Regions from separate parts of the Homo sapiens genome. Here all the other regions are linked to region 2. The links come from fine-mapping of genetic effects on gene expression. A gene starts in region 2. Each other region holds a variant in brackets. All regions are shown on one strand. Distances are between the middles of the regions. Region 1 overlaps UBR2 (ubiquitin protein ligase E3 component n-recognin 2). Region 2 holds the start of UBR2 (ubiquitin protein ligase E3 component n-recognin 2). Region 3 overlaps UBR2 (ubiquitin protein ligase E3 component n-recognin 2).

Region 1 (8,185 bases), 130 kb before region 2:
GCATAATGTTAGGAGTCTGATCTTGGCTGTGCCTGCCTAGGCTTCACAATCCAGTCAGGAGATGATGTCTAATTTATGAGCCAAAGGGAGGATCACTACCAAGTGCAAAACTCACAGTGCAGAGAGCCTCCTTCAGGAAAGCAGGAGGGGATCAGAGTGGACGCGTTCACATCAAGAGGACTTCATGGAGGAGGTGACTTTTTCTGCTGTAAAAATATTTATTCAACTTCCAGTTGACAATAGCAGTAACATAAATCTAAAACTCTATCAGTTATTATTATCTACTGCCATAATTATAAAATGTCCCAGAGCATTCATTCAAAAGAGATTTACTGAGGCCCTCCCCCTACCTGGTACTGTTCTAGGTGCTGGGATTCTGAGTGAGCCAGATGAGTCAGGGCCATCCCTGCCCTCAGGGAGCAGCTTCATCCTCTTGTAGAGTTTGCTATGCCATACAAAGAAGTGGAGGAGAGCAAGCCGGGAATTTGTACAGAAACAAGTGGCTAACGGAATATACGGAATATATTATAGAAAAATGAAAACAGGGTGTGGTGGCTCACGCCTGTAATCCCAGCACTTTGGGAGGCTGAGGCGGGCAGATCACCTGAGGTCAGGAGTTTGAGACCAGCCTGGCCAACATGGCGAAACCTTGTCTCTACAAAAAATATAAAAATTAGCCAGGCGTGGTGCCAAGTTTTTGACGCCTGTAATCCCAGCTACTCGGGAGGCTGAGGTAGGAGACTTGCTTGAACCCGGGAGGCGGAGATTGCAGTGAGCCAAGATCGTGCCACTGCACTCCAGCCTGGGTGACAGAGCGAGACTCCATCTCAAAAAAAAAAAAAAGTGAAAACAATAAGCTAATTATCAGCTACAGCTGACTCTTCTGCTCTTCTGTTGGTCCTTACTGTGCACTAGGTACAGTGGTGGTGTTTGCTGGAGTGCAGTGGTGGAGTCATGGCTCACTGCAGCCTCCATCTCTGGGGCTCATGAGATCCTCCCATCTTGGCTACCCAAGTACCCGGGTAGCTGGGACTACAGGCACGCGCCACCACACCCGGCAATTATTTTTATTTTTATTTTTAGTAGAGATGAGGTCTCGCTATGTTGCCCAGGCTGGTCTCGAACTCCTGAGCTCAAGCAATCCTCCCTCCACCTTGGCCTCCCAAAGTGCCGGGATTACAGGCATGCACCATTGCACTTGGCCTGTGTGTTTTACACATATTAAAGTGGCACAGTATCCACACGGGGTGGGCACCACTTCATCTGAAAATCTGCAAACCGGATGAATAAAGTGAGGTTTCCTGGTCACACGGCTGGCTAAGTGCCCGGGTTTGAACCCAGGCATTTTGGCACCAAGTCTGCCACACAGTGAATGCTAGTGAACAAATCCAAATTATTTTTTACCAGCATCCATTCATCACTGTGCTCATCAAAATAATGGAAGGGCTGGGCATGGTGGCTCGCACCTGTAATCCCAGCACTTTGGGAGGTCGAGGCGGGTGGATCTTGAGGCCAGGAGTTCGAGGCCAGCTGGCAACATGGGGAAACCACATATCTACAACAATAACAACAAAAAAATACAAAAATTAGTCAGGTATGGTGGCAGGCACCTGCAACGTTAGCTATTCAAGAGGCTGATGCATGAGAATTCCTTGAACACAGGAGATAGAGTTTGTAGTGAGCTGAGACCACGCCACTGCACTCCAGCATGGGTGACAGAGTAAGACTTGTCTCAAAAAAAAAAAAAAAAAAAAAAAAGAAGTACCACACATCAGATGCAGAAAAGGAGGTGACCTCTTAATTCCACCCAAGGCAGTTACTGAACTACCCAATATGTGCCAAGCAATGGGGTGTAGAGGTGAAGGCACCCAGGAATAATGCACCTGGGATGGGGGCGACCCGAGGGGATGGGGAGGGAGGATGAGCTGCCGGGGAGCTCACCAAGGGCTGAAGATGAATTAACAGATGAACGTGGAGAGGAGCAAGGTTCTAGGCAGAGAGCATAGCAGATGGTAAAGACCTAGAGGGGAGAAAGTAGGGGGCATGGGCGAATCCGAAGCAGCCCAGGATGGCTGGAAAGGGAGGAGGAGAGGGGTCTGACATGAGGCTGGAGAAGAGTCAGGTGTGTTGAGCACTGAGGACAGGGCAGCGTGGGGCAGGCTGTCACCAACCCACACTCCACAGTGCTCAGGTTGAGTCCTCTCTGGGACCCTCAATTTGAGGCTCCTGTGGTTTCCTAATGGTCCAGCTCCCAGCGATTCTCCCAGATTGCCTCTAAATCTCCTCTCCCACCACCAGGTGACCATTACAATTGGGCTGCGCTACCTACAGACGTCGCTGGATGGTGTGTCCAACCCCGAGGAATCTGAGAGCGAGAGCCAGGGCTGGCTGCTGGAGAGGAGCGTGCCGGAGACCTGGAAGGCCTTTCTGGAGAGTGTGAAGAAGCTGGGCAAGGGCAACCAGGTGGAAGCCGAGGGCGCAGACGCAGGCCAGGCCCCAGAGGCTGGCTGAGGGCCCTGGGGCCCCTCCCCTCCCGAACACTGAGAAATAGTGCACTCCAAGAAACGTGGATCTCCCCCTCATCCAACTCCGAAAGTCTGAATCTCCCAAGGAGGGCACCATCTTACAGAGACTCTCCCTGACGGTGGAATTTAAGTTTAGGGTCCCTAAAAGCATTTGACACACAGTTGTTGAATGACTGACCCAAAATGTGAATGAAGCTAATGTGAATGTGAGTGAAGCTCCCTTCAGGCCCGCTGCCCTAGGATATGCCCTCCTGGTGACTCGGGGGCTGTCTCAGACGACTAGCCCAGGACCCATCTTTCTCACACGGATTTAGTCCCACCCTATGGCCACTGGCCGTATCTGAGGGCTGCTCCCCTTTTAGAATTTACCTCTTATGAGCTCCATGTTGCTTCACTCTATCCAAAGTGTCACTTGGTGCATAAGCACAGAAATCTGAAAAATGGCCATGTTGTCTTTTTTTTTTTTTTTTAATGCCAAGATTGACAGGTTGGCCGTTTGCTTAATGCCAGAAGTTGGGGGAAAGTTACGCTTTTCTAAGAATAATGGACTCTTAAGGCATTGAGGGCTCTAAACAGGATTCTTTAATCATGGAGCAAGAGAATTTCAAGGCAGGGGATTTTATCCCCCACCAAAAACACAGTGAAAGGCCTGCTTTTGTGTCCCATTCACATGCCCTCGGTCACTGAGTCTGGAGTGAACCACGGGTTGAGGAAGTCAGGCTGTTGGCGTGTCCCAGCACCACACCACCCCTAAAGTGCCAGGTGATCTCCTGTGGCTCATCGGTGGAAGCAGTGGGGTAGGCTGCTGCCCTGCTGTGGAAGAGGAGCAACAATCAGACATGAGTCCACCCTTTGGAGACCAGGCCTCAGCTCTTGGTGGGCCCAGGGACACCCACACAGGTGGCCATCACAGCCCCATGGACAACACTAATTGTCCACAGCAAAGGGCAAGGAATCCTCTGGGAGCTTCTTCCGTTTCTTCCCCCCAGATACCCATCTTGAAAAACACTATTTCTGGAATGCTTCTGCATCAAAGGAGATTCTTTGAGATAGCCCATCTTCCTGAGCTAGCAAATACAGGAGTTTTCACTTTCTTTAGGAAAGAGAAGCTTTCAGGGGAAGGAGAGAATGATTTTGCTGACTTCCCAAGCCCTGGTGACCAGACCAAGGCAGGGCCCAGCATAATTCCTCCAGTTGGATGAACATTCAAGAGAGCTCGTTCCTACCTGGCTGGAGACCGAGGCCAGAAGGCAAAAACCAGAAAGGGAACAGTCCATAACTTACCTCTGCTTCTGACCGATGGTGTTTGGGAATAGGTTACTTTGGACTGAGTTTGGGTTCTCTGCTGTCCTAAGAACTTCAGTGTAGAGAAAATAAGACTTCTGGTGCTGCTGGGGTATGTTCTGGGCTTAATTCCCCCAAGCAGAAGACCAGATCCAAGATGTTTGGACACCCTGTCAGACGTTGGTCCCAAGTTTAATTAGATTTCTGAATCTCGTTGAGGCCAAGGAATGATCCATACTGAAAAAATGCTGAGCCAGCCATCTTTGGCAAAGGTCCCTGAGCTCTTGCTATCTCTCAAGAGTGCTGAGAACCACGGTGAAAGTGCTGCTCTAGGCCCACAAGTGTAACTATGCTGTTAACAGCTGTCAATAGATAATTAAAATTCATACTGTATGAAAATCACTTTTGTTAAATGACTGTTTAAGCCCATTCAACAACATATATCAGAATCCCCTACTACCGCTAGTATTTGCCAAAAAAGAAAAGAAACCCACCCTAAGGGAAGCATTGGTAACAATCGTTGTTATAAACATGGCTTGGGTATCACATCTCTCCATCTTGCCATCTCTTACCTGTAAGAACGGTGACTATTACAACAGTGACTATTATTATATCCAAATAATCTCAGCATTTGCTGGAGTTTGAACCAGAGCTGAATACATGGAATTTTAATGTAGAAATTTAGGCAAAACTCCAAGCCATTTTTTCTTCTCCTCTGGCCAAAACGTTATTTCCTCAAACAGGGAAATATGAGTCTCTATGGGGCCAGGTTATAGGAGCAAATGTGAACAACCTGAGAATCTGAAGGTTGTTGAGAGGACCAAGAGTGCATTGACTCTACAATAAATCTCACTCATTGGTTCGGAGCAGGCTTAGGGTTAACTGCATTTTAACAGGTCTTCTCAGGTAGCCGGTAGTTGCGAGAGAAACCTGGACCATCCCTTTTGGTCACCTACCAGTGCCCAGGAAGTCTCTGCTATCAGGTTTTTGCTTGTGTGTAACTTCAGTCTTTCCTTGGGCTGGTGTAAATCCTTTTCTCCTGAGGGACCCAGCCTACTTTTTTTTTTTTTTTTTCAAATATGGAGTTTTGCTCTTGTTGCCCAGGCTGGAGTGCAATGGCATGATCTCAGCTCACTGCAACCTCCGCCTCCTGGGTTCAAGTGATTCTCCTGCCTCAGCCTCCCT[A/G]CTAGCTGGGATTACAGGCGTTTGCCACCACGCCCGGCTAATTTTTGTATTTTTATTAGAGATGAGATTTCACCATGTTGGCCAGGCTGGTCTCGAACTCCTGTCCTTAGGTGATCTGCCCGCCTTGGCCTCCCAAAGTGCTGGGATTATAGGAGTGAGCCACCTGGCCCAGCTAGCTTTTAAAGTTCTGCCAGCATAGCCCCGGGATGGGGTGGGGGTAGACAGGGCCTTAGGACTTTCATTTTTAAAATGCTCACTCCACGGTGAAGAAACAGGTGATGACTATCCTGAATATTTGGGAAGCTGTGTCCTAGAATTTTTGGCCTCAGTTCCAGAACCCACAGCTTCTTTACAACATGCTTCAAGCCTGGGACTGAGCTGCCAGTAAATAAACCCCTAGTAACCTTAATATGGGTTAATAAGATTAGGTGCCCGCTCTGCACGCTCCCCTGCCCCTCCTCGTCCGGGCACCTGTTACACTAGGCCAGCATGTTTGCAGCTTAGCCAGGGAAAATCGTGGACCAAGACAGGGCTTTTCATCCACGACTGGCTAAAAAGATGGCTCTCAATGACAGCGCAGGCAGGCAGCACCACTGTGTTAGGAAGAGAAAAGTGTCTGTCCAATACTATGAAAGTCCAGGGAAGAGACAAGTGCCTTCCCAGGTCACAATGGATAGATTGGCTGGAAGGGGAAAAACATGTCAGTTCTTAACTCCTGACAGCATTTTATCCTGTCCATCACAGAGGACTGTAAACAGCAAAGTTACAGATTAGAGAATGCTGAGCTCTCAGGATGGCATCAAATGGAGGATTAAGATGTAAGGGACAACTTCTAGCTATTTACCTGAGGGAAGTGAAAATTCAGGTTTGTACAAAAACCCATCCATGAATGTTTGTAGCAGTAATCACCAAAACAATCACCCAAACTCACCCAAATGCCCTTCATCTGGCAACTGCCCAGAAGTCTGTACAACGGAATGCTACTCAGCAATCCAAAGGAACAGGGAGGACCCGAATGCATTCTTCTTTAGTGAGAAGCCAGACTCAAAATGCTACATATGATACAATTCCATTTATATAACATTCGGGAAGAGACAAAACAAAGGGAGAGAAAAACACTGGTAGCTGAAAGCCAGGATGAGGCAAGAAGCTGACTACAAAGGGGACTTTTGGGGAAGATGGAATTGTTCTATTTCTCGATTGTGGTTGTTTAACTGTATGCATTTGTTAAAATGTATAAAACTGTACACTAAAAAGAGTTAATCTGTTTGTAAAATATACCTCAATAAATGTGACTTAAAAAACAAGAGTAGGAACAGGCCAGGCACAGTGGTTCACACCTATAATCCTAGCATTTGGGAGGCTGAGGCGGGAGAATCATTTGAGCCCAAGGGTTCAAGACCAGCCTGGGCAACATAGCGCGGCTGTATCTACAAAAAAAATACAAAAATTAGCCAGGTGTGGTGGCATGTGCCTCTATAGTACCAGCTACTGGGAGGCTGAGGTGGGAGGATTGCTCGAGCCCAGAAGGTTGAGGCTGCAGTGAACCAAGGCTGTGCCACTGCACTCCAGCCTGTGGGACAAAGCAAGACCCTGTCTCTTTAAAAAAACCAAACCAAACCACCACCACACCAAAATCAAGAGTAGGAAGACAGGGAGGAGCATGTCAGAAGGGGCTTCATGAGTTCCTGGAACTAAAGACAAGAGTGGTGAAGGCAGTAGGCTGGGAGCAGTGTTACTGACCAGGAGGCAGGGTGAGTGCAATGGAAACCTTGCTGTTTTAGTTTGATGCTCTCAAGAGGATTTCAAAAAAAACAGAATTCTCATGGGCAATGACTCCCCTAGGAAGACAGTGTAGCTGCCTTTCTATGTCTCTCTCTCAAAAGCAGGAAGTGGTCATAAAAAAAAGAAAAAAAAAACCTCCAACAGCCCTGAAAAACCAGCCAGCACACTAGGGGAGTGTGTAAGGACAAGGACCTTGAGATCACCAGGTAAGGATGAACAAGAGTTTAAACCCAGACACAGGTCTTGGAGTGCCCTGTTTCCCAGTGATTTGAGTTCCAAAATGGTCCACAAAGGTCACACGCTGTCATGGCTAATGAATATGAAACTTAATCAGCTGAAATGATGATCACACTTTCTCTGAGAAGGTCAAGATAGTTTGGCTAGTGGCCATAATAATATAACCCTCTTAAATTTAAAGCTAATACAGATATCCCACTATATTTGTAGCAAGGTGACACGGGCACCTTGCTGTGGCAGGTAAATGTGTAAAATGAAACAGAAAGATATATGCTAACCAAAAGTAATGCCAACACCTAAAGCATTTATTTGGATATCTTTAAACTTTTTACATATGATACATTCCAAATTTTACAAGTTGTCCACAGATATTAAAGTTATAGCCAATTTATTAAACAGATATGATTTTCCCTGATATGGAAAGCGTATGTTATATAAACATTTCTACAATAAACATAAAACATGCGGAACAAATCATAAAACTAACATGATTTGTAAGGTAGGAAAGACAACTAGCTTAACACCAGAAAATAAAAAGGTGTGTATGTTGCAATTTCATGTAAATTCATCTTCTCCCAGGCTCTGTGATATTCTCAGAGAATGAAATCCAGAGACAACCTTTGCTAACTCCAGGCTCCTAGGAAGTCGGACCGGAAAGCTGGAGTATTGTTATGATTTGGTGAAAATGTTTATAATCCACTTGTACAGAGAGAAACCTGGTCTTATTATTTTAAATTTTAGCTTGGTGAACATATGAAAAAAAGCCAAAAGAAGCTTACCTTAAAAGCTAAAGAAACTGGATGTGACAGAGGCCAAAATAAACATGAATTATGCCACCTACAGCCCAAACAACCAGATCTTATGAATGAAGGCCAGAAAAAGGGGGAGAGAGGTGGACTCAAATGTGAATTTTCTTTCTATTGGTCCTCCTCTCAGCTGGGTGAGTCAGTCCCACGCAAGAATGGCGACGGTCATCCTCCTGTCAAGAGGGGGCGGTTCTTTCACACACTACCTTGGAGAGGAATGTGGCTTCTACATCCTCACTTCTTTTAGCTTCAGTTCCAGATTTCTGACCTTCTTCCTGTGATACTGTGGAGCATGCCTAGTTGACTGGTAGCTGAGTGGAACAAAACTTGTAGATGTAATTCAAAGAAAACTGATTGAAAGGG
Region 2 (8,185 bases):
CGCGCCTGGCCCAACATGGATAAATATTTAAAACATTATCTAAGAGAAAGAAGTCAGCCACAAATGACAATATGTTGAATTCCATTTATACGAAATATCCAGAATAGGCAAATCTACACAGACAAAAATTAGTAGTTGATTAGACCTCAGGAGTTTAGGTGTGAAAGGGAAGTGACTGCCAATAGGTACAGGATTTCTTTTTTGGGGTGATAAAAATGTCCCAAAATTGATCATAGTGATGATTGCATGAATCTGAATATACTAAAAACCACTGAATTTAACTGTACAGTATGTGAGTTATATCTCAATAAAACGGTTTAAAAAATGTACAGCAAAAAGATAACCAATACAGACCTAAAACTCTACATAAAACTTAACAAATTCATTATTTATTAAAACAAAATTTTTTTTGAAGACAGGGTCTCACTGTATCACCCAAGATGGAGTACAGTGGCATGATCATAGCTCACTGTAACTTCTAACACCTGGGCTCAAGCGATCCTCCCTGCTTAGCCTTCTGAGTAGCTAGGACTGCAAGTTCATGCCACCACACCCAGCTTATTTATTTTATTTTATTTTTTTTTAGTAGAGACAGGGTATAGCTAATGTTGCCCAGGCTGGTCTCAAACTCTTAGACTTAAGCAGTCCTCCCACCTCAGCCTCCCAAATAGCTGGGATTACTGGCATGAGCCAGTGCTCCCAACCTGTATTTCTTTTATATTCAGGGAAAAAGATGGGGTCCCGCTCTGTCACCCAGGCTGGAGTGCAGTGGCGCGATCTCGGCTCACTGCAACCCCAGCCTCCTGGGTTCAAGCAACTCTCCTGCCTCAGCCTCCCGAATAGCTGGGATTACAGGGGTGCACCACCATGCCCGGTTAATTTTTGTATTTTTAGTAGAGACAGGGTTTCACCATGTTGGCCAGGATGGTCTCTATCTCTTGACCTTGTGATCTGCCCTCCTTGGCCTCCCAAAGTGCTGGGATTACAGGCAAGAGCCACCACACCCGGCATGTTTACTTTTAAAACCGTAATCACTCACTGGAACATACTATAACCATATGTAGTATAGAAAGTAAACAGAGCCAAGAAGTGTTGGGAAAGTCATACTTATGGAGTCAATTCTAACAAGAAAAGAGAAGAATGAGAAGAGAGGGCCACTGTAATATCCTAAACTTACAAATATTAAAGAGTCAGCTTAGATACTTTTCTTTGTGAGGCATACTAGCTGGAATGGATGGGATCACAAAAAGTTCTTCCTCCTTATAACAGGAATAAGAAAAGCGGTGTGTAAATGAAATGTGGAAAGGTTGACACTAGTGCTCATTAGGTGATTTTTAAATGGAAGTGATCCTAACAAATTACCAATGACAGAGGTCTAAAGCCTACAATCACTGTTTTCTCTACTTGTTTCTCTTCCCTAAAATGTGCTTTCAACCTAAGAAAAAACTTTATTAATTTAAATGTGTGATAAAAAAGCTGAAGCCTAAGCTGAAAAAAACAGTTTTAAATGTTAGGTGTTTTAACTTAATACAGACAGTAAAGTCCTCACAAAGTAAGGCAAGATTAAGGTTATATAGTTGAAGGAATTTTATATTTTAATATTGGTTTTTGAGGTAGGAGGATCTCTTGAGCCTAGGAGGTCAAGGCTGCAGTGAGCTATGATAATGTCACTATACTCTAGTCTGGGCAACAGTGCAAGACCCCATCTCTTACCAAAAAAAGAAAAAAAAAAACTTATTGTTCAGAAAGGCATTTAAAAGTAAACAGGGTAGGCTGTGTGCGGTGGCTCACGCCTGTAATCCCAGGACTTTGGGAGGCCAAGGCGGACGGATAACCTGAGGTCAGGAGTTCGAGACCATCCTGGCCAATGTGGTGAAACCCTGTGTCTACTAAAAATACAAAAATTAGTCAGGCGTGGTGGCGTACGCCTGTAATCCCAGCTGTAATTCGGGAGGCTGAGGCAGGAGAATCACTTGAACCCCGGAGGCGGAGGTTGCAGTAAGCCAAGATTGCGCCATTGCACTCCAGCCTGGCGACAGAGCAAGACTGTCTCAAAAAAACAAACAAAAAAAGTAAACAGGGTAAAATGTAGCTCAGATTATGATCTTCACAAACTCAAATGAAGTCCAAATTAATAATTTTTTGTTGCATTTTCCTTGATTTTTCCTTACTGCATCTGCTTGAGAATTTCACTGAACAAGAACTAGGAGCACTGGCCTCCCGCACTACTTTTATAACCAGTTTCCTCAGGAGCCTCTACAAATTGGAGAACCTCTAATCACTTGATAGTTTGCACTTTTAGAATGGGATAACGGAATTTGTACCCTGTATCACTGGACCAAGACACAAAATTCAGTGAGAGAAAAAAAATCAAAACAGTACTTTGAGGTAAGCAACAGATATCAATTAGAAGAGGCATGGAGAGCAAACAGCTGTCATTATTATTTAACAGTTTACTTGTAACACTACTTTCATTTTCTTTTTTCAAATCTCCGATAAACGAAAGGCAGAAATTCCTTGAGTTGTACAACATTAAGTAGAAAGTAAATGAAAACAGACCTAGGCTAAACAAGTAAGTAGGTTTAAAAAAACACACCAAGGCAGGGCGCAGTGGCTCACGCCTGTAATCCCAGCACTTTGGGAGGCCCAAACAGGTGGATCACCTGAGGTCGGGAGTTTGAGACCACCCTGACCAACATGGAGAAACCCCAACTCTACTAAAAATACAAAATTAGCCGGGCGTGGTGGTGCATGCCTGTAATCCCAGCTACTCGAGGGGCTGAGGCAGCAGAATCGCTTGAACCCGGGAGACTGAGGTTGCGGTGAGCTGAGATCGCGCCACTGCACTCCAGCCTGGGCATCGAAAGCGAAACTCCGTCTCAAAAACAAAAACAAACAACAACAAAACACACCCAAACAAGCAAAGATTCAGCATTTAACAACGTATTTCTTTAAAGTCTTCACCTCTACTCCTGACATTTCTTTCTACCCGGACTTAATGTCCTCACCAATTCACGCAAAATAACTACTCACTGACCAACAGCTCCACAGTGCCCCCAATCCCAAATTTTGTTCGTAGCATTCAGATTGCTGACTTTTATTCACGGGTCACTCCCTTCCTAGCAGCCTTTTTAATTGGAGGTCTTAGAGGTGGGGCCCAAGCTGTCTTGGTCCATTCATAATCATTCTCGGCAATCTCTTCTAATGGGTGTTCCTACAACTCTGCTATTTACACTAGCATATTCATATTACAGTTTTAATGCAATAGTGCGTTTGAACGGTTTTACGTTTGGAATATAACTGCTCCTACTACACTGTGACCAGTTCTCACGTTTAGCTTATACAGTATTTGTTGAAAGCTGCTCTATCAACGTTATATAACATTTGTTCTCCATCCAATTACCCCTAACTCCTAGAAAAAATATTTTTAAAATTTCCCAGACTCCACGACTACTTTCTCATACTCAGTAAACTTTCCACACATGCATCAACGTTGTCAACTAATCAAACCGGTGCAAAAAAAAAAGATAGCACTGAAACGGATAACGAAGGGTAGTGTCGTTTGCCTTCTTGGTGCCTGGGGCAGTCCCAAAAACAAAAGAGGGGCTCGGTTAGGGTGGCATGTTTAGTCGGAGGAGCACACGGCTTCGCTTGTCTCAGGAAAAGCAATTAACTAGATAAACTAGGGCGATTATACCAAAAACACAAGAAGCGTCTCTTCTCCTCTTCCAAGAGCTGATATAAAGGGCAAAGGCCCATGTGTTGGGAGACTTAATGGGAGGCTGGGGGAAAGGAGGTATGATGGAAGAGCCGTGGGTTCTCCTGGGCAGAAAGGGAAAGTAAACGTAGTTAGTGCACAGCGCAGCTCTGGCAGCTGTTGAAAATGGAAAGAGAGGGGCAGGATCGGTGGCCTCCCCGGGCTATTACCCCACAAGGCGAGGGCCGGCACAGCTGTTTCCCCAAGTCTGGGTCGGGCTGCTCCAGGACGTCCAGGAGTCGGTTCCTCCCCACAGGCGCGGCCTGCGAGGGGCAGACGCACCCGCCCGGGTTCCGGCACTCACCCCCGCAATCTCCTCGGCCGAACATTCCAGCAAGCTCCGGTCGATGGCCTGCACCTCTGGCTCTAGCTCCGACGCCATCTTCTCTCCTCCTCCTCCCCAGCGCTACCGCCGCCCGGAGAGCTGCAGCCTCACCTCGGCCCCGGCGGCCTCGACTGCCACCCCTGCCCCAGGCAATCAGTCCCGGAGCCGTCCAAGTGGCTGCAGGTGGAGCAACAGAGGGAGAGAAGGGTGACGTGAACCGGAAAGGAAGGACAGCGGCCTCCTGCGCTCCCTCCCAAGCTTAGCGCCCAAGAGTCAAGTCACTGGCTCGTCCCTGACCCAGGGAAGGACACAGAAAACCCCAGGCCTGACACTCTCGCTGGCCACTACCGCGTCCTGCACCAGGAAAGGGGCAATAACACCCAGGAGGGGAAGCGGAGCTTTCTGGGTACTGTAGTTCTGGGTGCTGTAGGTACAGCACAGCCGGGAAAAAGGTGGCGCCCTAACACGGTGCCCCTCGAATGCATTGTGGGAGTTGTAGTCCATTCTCAAGGGGCGCTGGCTTAAATGGCAGATAAGCGGGCGGGGCTTTTCTGCCCAACGAGAATCATGGGAAGACAGTCGCGGAAAGCAGCGCCCCCTGGAAAAAAGCCAAAGAGAAAGATACTGTGGGAACTGTAGTTTTATTCTCCGAATCTCGTTTGTTCATTTTTGTATCCCCAGCTTCAAGAACACTGCCTGGCACATGGTAGACCCTCAAGGACTTGCCAGTCTGGCATAGGGTAGGCACTCAAATACTTGTCAAAGGAATGAATGAATTACATTCTATTCCTGTGGTTCTATGTCCTGTCATCCATCGAACCCATATCTTTTATACGAGTAATGGAGGTGAACATTACCCACTTTTTTGAAGGTTTAAAACATGTTTTAAAAAATTTTTCAAAAACTTTAGTGATGACCACTTATAAACTTTATCACAAATCTTGCTGCAAAGGAAAAAGAGTCTATTAGGCCAATTAAAAGATTTCCTCTTGATAGAGACATTTAATTTCTACAGATAATCAGACCAAGCTTGGTGGCTCATGCCTGTAATTCCAGCACTTTGGGAGGCCGAGGGGGGCAGACTACTTGAGCCCAGGAGTTTGAGACCAGTTTGGACAACATAGCGAGACCCTCTTGATAAAAATCAAAAAATTAGCCAGGTGTGGTGGCACGCCTGTAGTCCCAGCTACTCGGGAAGCTGAGGCAGGAGGATTGCTTGAGCCCAGGCAGTTGAGGCCATCGTGAGCTGTGATCAGCCCACTGCACTCCAGCCTGCGTGACACAGCTGAGACCCTGTATCAAAAAAGAAGGAAAAAAAAAAAAAAGAAATAGGTAAACATTGTTAGACTAGCTATCAAAGAAAACTATGTTTAGTTAAAGGTAATTAGACTCTTGACTGACAGCTGGGTGACTGGGCTTCTTAGAAGTCTTCAGTCTCTAGAGTTTGTCAGAAAATTGTTTATACCTTTTGTCAAGTGTGTTAATTTATTCCCAGAAGTAGGTTGTAAATTACATATAGGGGGGAAAAGTTCTGAGCCAGACCAGGTTTAGGACATGTTTATGTTTATGTTGTTTTGGGATTTTTTTTAAACCAATACTATGATATTAACCAGTTTTTTAAAAAAGGAAATAAGAAACTGCCTGTATCCCTGTAACCTCACAATACAAGTAAGCCTTCTTATCACTTTTTAAAAGTTATATATATATATACATATAAAACATCAGAAATTCAAACTCGAAAGGAATGTTTTAAAAAAGGAAAATTGAAAACTTCCTATTCCTCTTACCCCAAGTCCCTCTCCCCAAAGAAAATCATTTTTGACACTGTCTTATGAGTCTGTCCAGAAAAAAGTATGCACATATCTGTACAGATATTTATAATGAGATATCTTGAAATATTCTTCTATGTATTTTTCTTTTTTTGCCCAACTTCCTTACACTGATCCACTCAGGACAGAGTCAACTTGGAAGAAAACTGGGATTGTCCCAGCCTAGAAGCAAAAACAACATCTCTTGAGCTGTCCTAACATAGAATTTAAGTCGTTAATAGACTGTAAAGGCAATTTCTGTTCTTAACATTATTTGCTTCCTAACATTATTTGTTTCAGGCCGAGCATTGTGGCTCACACCTGTAATACCAAAACTTTGGGAGGCCAAGATTGGAGGATAACTTGAGGCCAGGAGTTTGAGACCAGCCTGGGCAACATAGCAAGACCCCATCTCTACAAAAAAATTTAAAAATTAGCCGAACATGGTGGCCCATGTCTGTAGTCCTAGCTACTTTGGGAGGCTGAGACAGGAAAGATCACTTGAGCCTAGGAGTTCAAGCCTGTAGTGAGCTATGACTGTATCACTGAACTCTAACCTGGGTGAAAGAATGAGAGCCTGACTCAAAAAAAAATTGTTTCCCTTGTGTGTCATAATTATGAATTTGGAGATCATCTTCACTTAGCATTAGTAGCATTAGCAGTGGGACTCTCCATGTATTAATACTTTCAAAATACTTTTTCATTTGCTTCTGCAAGGCCAGACAACCTAGAAAACATCGTATACTCAGGACCAGGCACTCTAGGAGTATCCTGTATCTAGGACCAATTGTACGTCAGTTTCTAGGCTTGAAGATTCCCTAATAGTATTAATTCAGTTGTGTGCCATTTCTCTGTCTATAATTTTTGTTTTTTTGAGACAGAGTCTCACTTTGTTGTCCAGGCTGGAGTGCAATGGTGCAATCTTGACTCACTGCAACCTCTGCCTCCCGGATTCAAGCGATTCTCCTACCTCAGCCTCCTAGGTAGCTGGGATTAGATGCGTTGGTGGTATAGTGGTGAGCATAGTTACCTTCTAAGTAGCTGGGATTATAGGCACGTACCATCATGCCTGACTAATTTTTGTATTTTTAGTAGAGACAGGGTTTCACCATGTTGGTCAGGCTGGTCTCAAACTCCTGACCTCAGGTGTTCCACCCACCTCAGCCTCCCAAAGTGCTGGGATTACAGGTGTGAACCACAGTGCCCGGCCTGTCTATGAATTTTTAAGGAGAGTTCTTTTTCCTACTCAGAGTCAAGGTAAAGAGCTTCTTTGTCATTTTTGTATGCCAGTTGGTGGGTTTTTTGTCTAGTCTACCCTTTCACTGATACGACATTCCTTTGAAAGCCCTGGCTTTATGTAGAGGATCTCAGTTGCAATTCCAATGTTTCTTTGACCCAGGGTCTTGTTTTCTGTTCCCATGGGGGCATTAAGAGCTAAGCCCCAACTTCCAGTTAAATGTGGCAGATTGAATACCTCATGACAGTAAAGGGAGAAAAAAAGAAAAGAAGAGAGGATGACAGCACCAAAATTTGGTGGAAAGCAAGTGGTTGAGAAGTAACTAAGAGAATGCTGAAACCTCCGCTAGCAGTAGAGACACTGAGTCAAGCTAATTAATATGCAGTACCCTGAAAGACTTAAAAATTTGAGGCACCATGTAACTCTGAAAGTGGGTGAAGACAATGCTAAAAGCAAGCTTATTGTTTGAAAGTCTGTATAGCAAGAAGTTAGATCTCACTTCCTACTCTGGAAGAAGACTAGAGCTTTATCCTCTAGAGTGACTACACTTGAGGGCCTTTTGACTGGGAGACACCAGACACAGCTGAGGACAGGGATACCGCACTGCATTCAAGAGAGATGAATCAAAGTCTACATAGTGAACAGGGATAACCTAGCTTATTTCCCCATTTGGCTCTGAGAACCTTAGTGGCCAGGCTTATACCTCCCAGGCAAGAGTTTGGGAGGGTCTTCTCCAGAGGGGTAGATTATCTCACCACCAAAAAAATCTGTAGAGGTCATGCCTGTAATCCCAGCACTTTGGGAGGCCGAGGCGGGTGGATCACCTGAGGTCAAGAGTTCAAGACCAGCCTGGCCAACATGATGAAACCCTGTCTCTACTAAAAATACAAAAAAAGCTGGGCATGGTGGTGGGCACCTGTAATCCCAGCTACTCGGGAGATTGAAGCATGAGAGTCGCTTGAATCCAGGAGGTGGAGGTTGCAGTGAGCCGAGATTGTGCCACTACACTCCAGCCTGGGTAACAAGAGTGAAACTCCATCTCAAAAAAAAAAAAAAAA
Region 3 (8,185 bases), 34 kb before region 2:
TGTAATCCCAGCACTTTGTGAGGCTGATGCAGGCGGATCGCGAGGTCAGGAGATTGAAACCATCCTGGCTGACACAGTGAAACCCCGTCTCTACTAAAAATACAAAAAATTAGCCGGGCGTGGTGGAGGGCGCCTGTAGTCCCTGCTACTTGGGAGGCTGAGGCAGGAGAATGGCATGAACCCAGGAGGCGGAGCTTGCAGTGAGTGGAGATTGTGCACCACTGCACTCCAGCCTGAGTGACAGAGCGAGACTCTGTCTCAAAAAGAAAAGAAAAGAAGAAAAAAAAAAAAGGGCCAGGCATGGTGGCTTGGCCGGGCACGGTGGCTCACGCCTGTAATCCCAACACTTTGGGAGGCCGAGGTGGATGGATCATCTGAGGTCAGGAGTTCAAGACCAGCCTGGCCAATGTGGTGAAACCTCATCTCTACTAAAAATATAAAAGTTAGTTGAGTGTGGTGGTGGTGCCTGTAATCCCAGCTACTTAGGAGGCTGAGGCAGGAGAATCGCTTGAACCCAGGAGACGGAGGTTGCAGGGAACCGAGATTGTGCCACTGTACTCCAGCCTGGGCAACAGAGCAAAACTCCATCAAAAAAAAAAAAAAGAAAAAAAAAAGAATGGAGAAAAAAGGACAAAGATGCCTAAAACAGATGGGTCTAGAGCTTGAAGAAGGTAAATTTCCTTTTCTCAGTAAGAAGCAGATTTTTCAAATGTTTATAGCACCTTTTACCTATAACTCTTCTCATACAGGCTGCTTTATATGTCCCATTGAGGTTTTTTTTTTTTTTTTTGAGCTAGAGTTTCGCTCTTGTCGCCCAGGCTGGAGTGCAATGGCACAATCTCGGCTCACTGTAACGTCCGCCTCCCGGGTTCAAGCGATTCTCCTGCCTCAGCCTCCTGAGTAGCTGGGATTCCAGGCATGTGCCACCATGCCTGGCTAATTTTGTATTTTTAGTAGAGACAGGGTTTCTCCATATTGGTCAGGCTGGTCTCAAACCCCTGACTTCAGGTGATCCACCTGCCTTGGCCTCCCAAAATGCTGGGATTACAGGTGTGAGCAGCCGCGCCCAGCGAAGTTTTTTATTTATTGTTTCTGCTAGCAAGGTTTATTACTATTTGTTATGGAGGCTTTAGAAATAACTGACATGGTGAAATCACTTGTATACAGAAAGAATCAGAGCTGGTCCCTCCTGGGGATTCAAACAAGAGTAGGTATTAATAATAATATGAACCTCATACTACACCAAAATAGAAAGTGGAATCAAAATTCAGCTTTCCTGGTACTATTATCTCACCAAACAGTCATTCCATTTCTTACAGTTATAGCCCATAAGACAAAAACATTTAAGGATTGAAGAGTTTGATAAACAGGGTTTATAAAACTTTAATGGTCCTGGAACAGAGACAACCACCAATTCTTGAGAATCCTAACCAACAGTTTCCAAACTCTATTTTACAAAAATCCCAGGGCATGGTAGAGATGTCCTATTTGAATTAAAATGTCAGTTCCAAAATATATTCTAGGCCGAACATGGTGGCTCATGCCTATAATCCCAGCACTTTGCAAGGCCGAGGTGGGAGGACTGCTTGAGCCCAGGAGTTTGAGACCAGCCTGGGCAATACAGTGAGACCTCATCTCTACAAGAAAAATTTAAAAATTAGCAGAGAGTAGTGGTGCATGCTTGGGAAGCTGAGGTGGGAGGACTGCTTGAGCCTGACAGGTGGAGGCTAAAGTGAGCCATGATCTTGCCACTACACTTCTCCAAGCCTGGGCAACAGAAAAAATACACTCTAAAATGTGTTACATTCCATATTGGAACACCAACTGATAATTTTTTTTTTTTTTTTTTTTTTGCTACAGTAACCCAGTTTGAGGCAGGCCTAGACAGATTCTTCTGCCATCTCCGTACACAAATTTTAACTTCTAAGAAATGTGTCACTCATCATAAAGAATTATTTCTGCATTGAAAAGATGCTACAGCTGTACAAGTCTACGAATGTTATGATGGTAAATTAAATGTCAGGAAAGACTAAGACATTCCTGCTCAGATTGCCCTTTTCATAGCATAAATCAGTTGGAACAATAAATGACATCCTATTGTATTATCTATTATTACTAATAATTTTAGCTCTTTGATTATATTTATGCTACAGAATGTTCATCTGTTGGTGAGTCTGCTTTGATTTACTATTCTTTCAAGCTAGAAGAATGCAAGGCATGTTGTTAAAAAGGTTGTTAGTGGTTATTTTAGAGGGCAGTAGGAATTATGGAGAACTTTATCTTTTATGCAGTATACTCCTGTAATATTTGAATTTGTAAAATGCAAGCATGTATTACAATAAAGATTTTAACTGTTATCATATGCAATGTAGGTATGAATGAGGATTTTCTCCATACTGCCCAACTAAAAATATAGAAATAAACTAGAGGCTGCAGTCATCAAAACAACCTCAATTATCTCATAAACTGACTTTCTAACAATAACACACGTTTCAATTTACAAAAAATAAATCTATTATTAATACCACTTTAATGTGCTCTATTATTTTTTAAAATTAGATTTTCATTTAAAAAAACAATTCTAGCTAGGCGTGGTGGCTCACACTTGTAATCCCAGCACTTTCAGAGGCAGAGGCAGAATTGCTTGACCCCAGGAGTTTGAGATCAGCCTAGCAGGGTATGTGCCTGTGGTCGCAGCTACTGGGGAGGCTGAAGGGGGAGAAATCGCTTGAGTCCATGTGGTCAAGGCTGCAGTGAGCCATGATTGCACCACTCTACTTCAGCCTGGGAAACAGAGCAAGACCTCATCTCAACAAAACAAAACAAAACAAAAACAAAAGCATAACAACAACAACAACAAAAAAAACCCCCAAACAAAACCCCAAACCATGCAATAATTCTGCTAAAAATGCTTTTTAAAACCAGTATAAGGTACTGTGTTAAGAGCATCATTACTGGAGTCTATACTACATAGGTTTAAATCCCAGTCCCATAATTTCCTATGTGGGACACTTTGGGCAAGTTTTTTTTATCTTTCTAAAACTCAAGTTTCTCTCTTTTTTCTTTTCTTTAAGAGGGTCTCTCTCATCCAGGCTCATACCTCACTGTAACCTCAAACTCCTGGGCTCAAAGTGATCCTCCACCTCAGCCTAAAACTCAATTATTTATAAAATATTGGTAACAGCATTATCTATCTTATGAGGCTGTTTTGGGAATTAAATGAGATAGACCAAATAGTCAGCATTAACATCTAGTTATTAATAATTACTGATCTGAATTCAAACAGATGGGAGCAGCATTTGTGAGTGAAATTTCAGATTACAAAAATCTTCACTTAGGTTGTTGTTCAGTTAATATTTCTTATTTAATTAAATCTAATTCCAAATAGGATTTACAGCAACTTAAGAATACATCTACATCCCAGCTACTTGGGAGGCTGAGACAGGATGACTCTGCTTGAGTTCAGGAGCTGAAGACCAGCCTGGGCA[G/A]CACAGTAATAAAAACCATGTCTCTAAAAATAAAATAAAATAATTTTTTTAAAGAATGCACCTAATAGAGTGGTATATTAAAAAAGATGTAAAAAGCAGGTAAATGAAAATAAAGATAGGAAAATAAACCATAGTCAAGGTAACATCTATATATAGATAGAGATCACATAAATTTTCACACAGCTACTACAGGCAGGCTGTTTCCAACCATCTGGCTCTTTTTCCAAAAGTCTCAACAAAAGGAAACACAATCAGTTATGAGATTCACACCAGGAGAAACATAACATTTCTTAATATAGAGACCTAAGAGAAATTCCTTATGGACTCCTATAAAGACTAACAAAGGAGATACCACATATTATGTGTTGGTTCTCAAATGGGAGAGGTACATCTCACCACCCTCCCTACTCACTCCCACACCCCAAGGGGCCATTTGCAAACCTAGCTGGGCATTTTTTTCTGTCACTGTAGTGGAAGATGCTAGTGACATCTAGGGAGTGGGAACTGAGTAGGCGAAACACAATGCTTTCAGTAGCCTACACCTAGGGTCAACAAACTTTTTCTGTAAAGGAGATAGTACTTTAGTCTTAGCAGGCTATAGGGTCTCTGCTGCAACTACTCAATTTTGTTTGTAATGGGAAAACAACTACAAATACTACGTTAAAATTTAAGCATGACTGTGCTTCAATAACATTTTATTTATGGACACTAAAATTTGGATTTCATATAATTTTCTCATGTCACAAAATACAATTCTGTTGATTTTTTTCAACTATTTAAAAACAGACACAAGAACAGGTTGTGGACAAGATTTGGCTTGTAGGAGTCAGAGCTTGCTGAACCCTGTCCTATACAATGAAGAAATATCTCACCCCCAAATGCAAAGAGATGAGAAGACCTGTGGAACTCCTGCATAGCATTTCTATATCACCAGGTTTCCCCCAGCTTTTTCGGAAGATGTAGGCTAAATGTATGACAAAAAAATTATGTTCAACAGTTACTGGGAACAGGTATGTTAAACAAAATGCTATCTTAATACCCTTGAAGACTTCATTTCTCTTTTTTTTTTTGGTTTTTGAGATGGAGTTTCGTTCTTGTCCAGGCTGGAGTGCAATGGCGCAATCTTGGCTCACCACAACTTCTGCCTCTCGGGTTCAAGCGATTCTCTTGCCTCAGCCTCCCAAGTAGCTGGGATTACAGGCATGTGCCACCACGCCCGGCTAATTTTGTATTTTTAGTAGAGACGGGGTTTCTCCATGTTCGAGACCAAGCTGGTCTCGAACTCCTGACCTCAGGTGATCTGCCTGCCTCAGCCTCCCAAAGTGCTGGGATTACAGGTGTCAGCCACCACGCCTGGCTGACTTCATTTCTCTTAAACTTTTTTTTTTTTTTGGAGACAGAGTCTCACTCTGTCGCCCAAGGCTGGAGGGCAGTGGTACAATCATGGCTCACTGCATCCTCAATCTCCCCTGGCTTTGGTGATCCCCTTACCTCAGCCTCCTGAATAGCCGGGACTACAGGTGCACGCCACCATACCTGGCTAATTTTTGTAATTTTTGTATAGACGGGGATTTGCCATGTTGCCCAGGCTTGTCTTGAACTCCTGGGGTCAAGTGATCTGCCCACCTCGACCTCCCATAGGGCTGGGATTACAGCATGAGTCACCGCGCCTGGCCTTAATTAAACTCTTAAATATAAATTAAATGGTAGAGTTTGGAAGGCTTTATTCTTTGTCTAGTTCCAGGAGTATACATTCTCCAGGCAGGATTGTATGACTTTTGGCTAGGCAGGGGAGCTTGCTGGTGTCTTCTTAAAATTCAGGAAATTAAGTAGAGCTTGGACTGTTGGATAGCCATCCCACTAATGTATGAGGATAAAGCCAACAGAGCAAATGTAGGCAGATTCAAAACTTTTCATTAGAAAATTATTTTAAGTCTACTCTAACACAGGGATAAAAAAGGTAACAGAAGTCCTAAAGTATCTTTTCCAAATAAATGACATGACATTTACAGAACATAAAATTAACCATTTTAAAGTGAACAACTCAGTGGTACTTGGTACATTTATTATAACGTGCAACTACTACAATCTAGTTCCAAAACATTTCCATCACTCCAAAGTAAAACCCCTTACCTACTAAGCCATTTCTCTCCATTTTCCTCTTCCCCAGCCCCTGGCAACTACCAATCTGTTTTTTCTCTCTACAGATTTACCTATTCTGAATATTTCATATAAAAGGAATCATACAATATGTGACCTTTTGAGTCTAGCGTCTTTCACTTAATATGTTTTAGAGGTTCATGCATGTTGTAGCATGTATCAGTTCTTCATTCCTTTTTATGGACGAAAAATATTCCATTGTATGTATATTATCACAATTTGTTTATCCATTCATTCACTGATGGACATTTGGGCTGTTTCTACCTTTTGACTATTGTGAACAACATTGCTACAACATGTGTGTGCATGTACTTGCTCAACTTCGGTTTTCAGTTCTTTTGGGTATATATCTAGGTGTGAAATATACGGTAATGTTTAATATTTTGAGGAACAGCCAAACTGTTTTCCACAGCACTGAATCATTTTATATTTCCACTAGCAATATACAAGGGTTCTAATTTCTCTATATCCTTGTCAATACTTGTTATTACTTTAATAGTCATCTTACTGAGGGTGAAGCAGTATCTCACTGTGGTTTTGATTTTGCATTTCCCTAATGACTAATGATGTTCAGCATCTTTTCATGTGTTTGTTGATTATTCATATATCTTCTCTGTAAAAATGTCTATTCAAGTCTTTTGCCCATTTTTAAATTGGGTTATCTTTTTACTTGCTGAGTTGTAAGATATAAACTCTGCATACTAGATCCTTTTTGGATACATGGCTTGGATATACACACATATACTTTCTCCTGCAGTCCTAAAGTTTTATACCAGTGGTTTTTAACCTTTTTCTAAAGCACAATTCTTTTTTTTCAAATATATCTTTATTTGTCCTGTATTTCTACATACAGAACCCCAATCAACTATATAAAAATGGAGCTTCTCCAATAGAAGTGGAAAAATCTGGAACCTTGACCACTTGGCATCTTACTGTAGCAAATTACAGAACCCTTTCACAAAGCAAATGAAAAACAAAACATGTTTTCCATAGCACTGAATCATTTTGTATAAATTTTGATTTGTACATCAAAAGCTTTGGTCATTCTGATAAAATATATTTGAGACCTGTAGGATATGGGTACCAGGAAGAACTTTTTTTTTTTTTTTTTTAAAGACAGGGTCATGATCTTGGCTTGCTGCAACCTCTGCCTCCTATGGCTCAAGCGGATCCCACTTCAGCACCCCCAACCCAAGTGGCTGGGACCACAGGCACGTGCCACAACACCCAACTAATTTTTGTATTTTTTGTAGGGATGGGGTTTTGCCATTTGCCCAGGCTGGTCTCAAACTCCTGGGTTAAAGTGATCCACCCGCCTTGGCTTCCCAAAGTATTGGTATTATAGGTATGAGCCACCTTGCCTGGCTGAGGAAGGACTATTGATGTCCACTTGCCCCAAATCTATATCAGGCCTACTAACAATGTAGACGTACTTGAGTGTACCTATTCCCCTGCCATTTAAAAATAAAATCTGAAAGAAGGATCTTGAACTATACAACAAATTGTCATAAAATGTAGCAGAAGAGGGACTGCCACAGGTTGGCTAACGGATACAAGAACAAAGCTAGATAGAAAGAATGAGTTCTAATGTTCTACAGCACTATAGCATGACTATAATTAACAATTTACTGTATATTTTCAAATAGCTAGAAGAGCGGATGGTGAAGGTTTCCAAAACCAAATAATGTTAAATGCTTGAGGTGATGGATATGTTAATTACCCTGATTTGCTCATTACACATTGTATATATGTATCAAAATATCACACTGTGCCCCATAAATATCACGCTGTACCCCATAAATATGTACAATTATTGTCAATTAAAAATAATAAAACATAATCTATTGTAGCATACCATTGAAAGATTTAATCATTGTATAATTACAGTTAAGTGAGTTATTAGAAATATATGGAAAGTTTTTGAAGTTTTAAAAAAAGCAGCAGAGATTTAAGCATTTATTTTGTGGGACTCTACTATTCCATTACAAATCCATTTAAGAAAAATAATGCAGGATCAACAATTTGAAAAACACAGTAAGCAGTGGGAATTATTTGTACTGAGCTATCATCACTACACATGGTCCCATCACATAACCAATGATAATGGAAACCAGGAGATGATGATTGGGATTGGCTGTCATGTATGGTAACAGAAAAGAAAGCTATCTGGCCCCAAAAGTCTTTGTTATAATAAAGATATACAAAACTCAACTTGGTTAACTGGTCTACACATATGGGAAAAATAATCCTCTCAACCATAGGTTAGTACTCAAATAAACTTCAAGTATGCTTAAAACAAAACCCCAACCAAATAAAAAATCAGAATTAAATGAAATTTCCCAAATTTCAACTGTGTACTATTAGCAACCGTACAGCATCCACAAAATGCAAAGAACTTTCAAAGTAAACTAGTCACTGTCAATAGTGGAAGTACTATTTGCTTATCCATTTCTCACATCATCTAATGACTATTTCTCAAAATATTTCAAACTTGGGTTAAAAACAACTTTGTGAAAATGTTTTTACCTCTTCTTCCT

The links. PIP is the estimated chance that this variant, and not a neighbour inherited with it, causes the effect.
Region 1: its variant is the best candidate, but not a certain one, in a credible set for the expression of UBR2 in tibial nerve (GTEx, PIP 0.65).
Region 3: its variant is the best candidate, but not a certain one, in a credible set for the expression of UBR2 in whole blood (INTERVAL, PIP 0.57).

Annotation. Positions count from the first base shown.
Region 1 is chr6:42,692,621-42,700,805 of GRCh38, reverse strand. UBR2 (ubiquitin protein ligase E3 component n-recognin 2) reads right to left here. Exons shown (of 47, transcript NM_001363705.2): 47 at 7,301-8,185. It overlaps PRPH2 (peripherin 2), which reads left to right. Exons shown (of 3, transcript NM_000322.5): 3 at 2,299-4,208. The coding sequence ends at 2,511. Among named protein-coding and RNA genes, the nearest start is that of PRPH2, 26 kb to the left of the region's middle. The variant A/G (reference allele first, on the strand shown) is at 4,995.
Region 2 is chr6:42,560,274-42,568,458 of GRCh38, reverse strand. It overlaps UBR2 (ubiquitin protein ligase E3 component n-recognin 2), which reads right to left and starts at 4,430. Exons shown (of 47, transcript NM_001363705.2): 1 at 4,062-4,430. The coding sequence starts at 4,139. RefSeq lists a silencer at 3,037-3,166 and enhancers at 4,199-4,718, 4,789-4,868.
Region 3 is chr6:42,594,294-42,602,478 of GRCh38, reverse strand. It overlaps UBR2 (ubiquitin protein ligase E3 component n-recognin 2), which reads right to left. Exons shown (of 47, transcript NM_001363705.2): 4 at 8,175-8,185. Among named protein-coding and RNA genes, the nearest start is that of UBR2, 34 kb to the right of the region's middle. The variant G/A (reference allele first, on the strand shown) is at 3,489.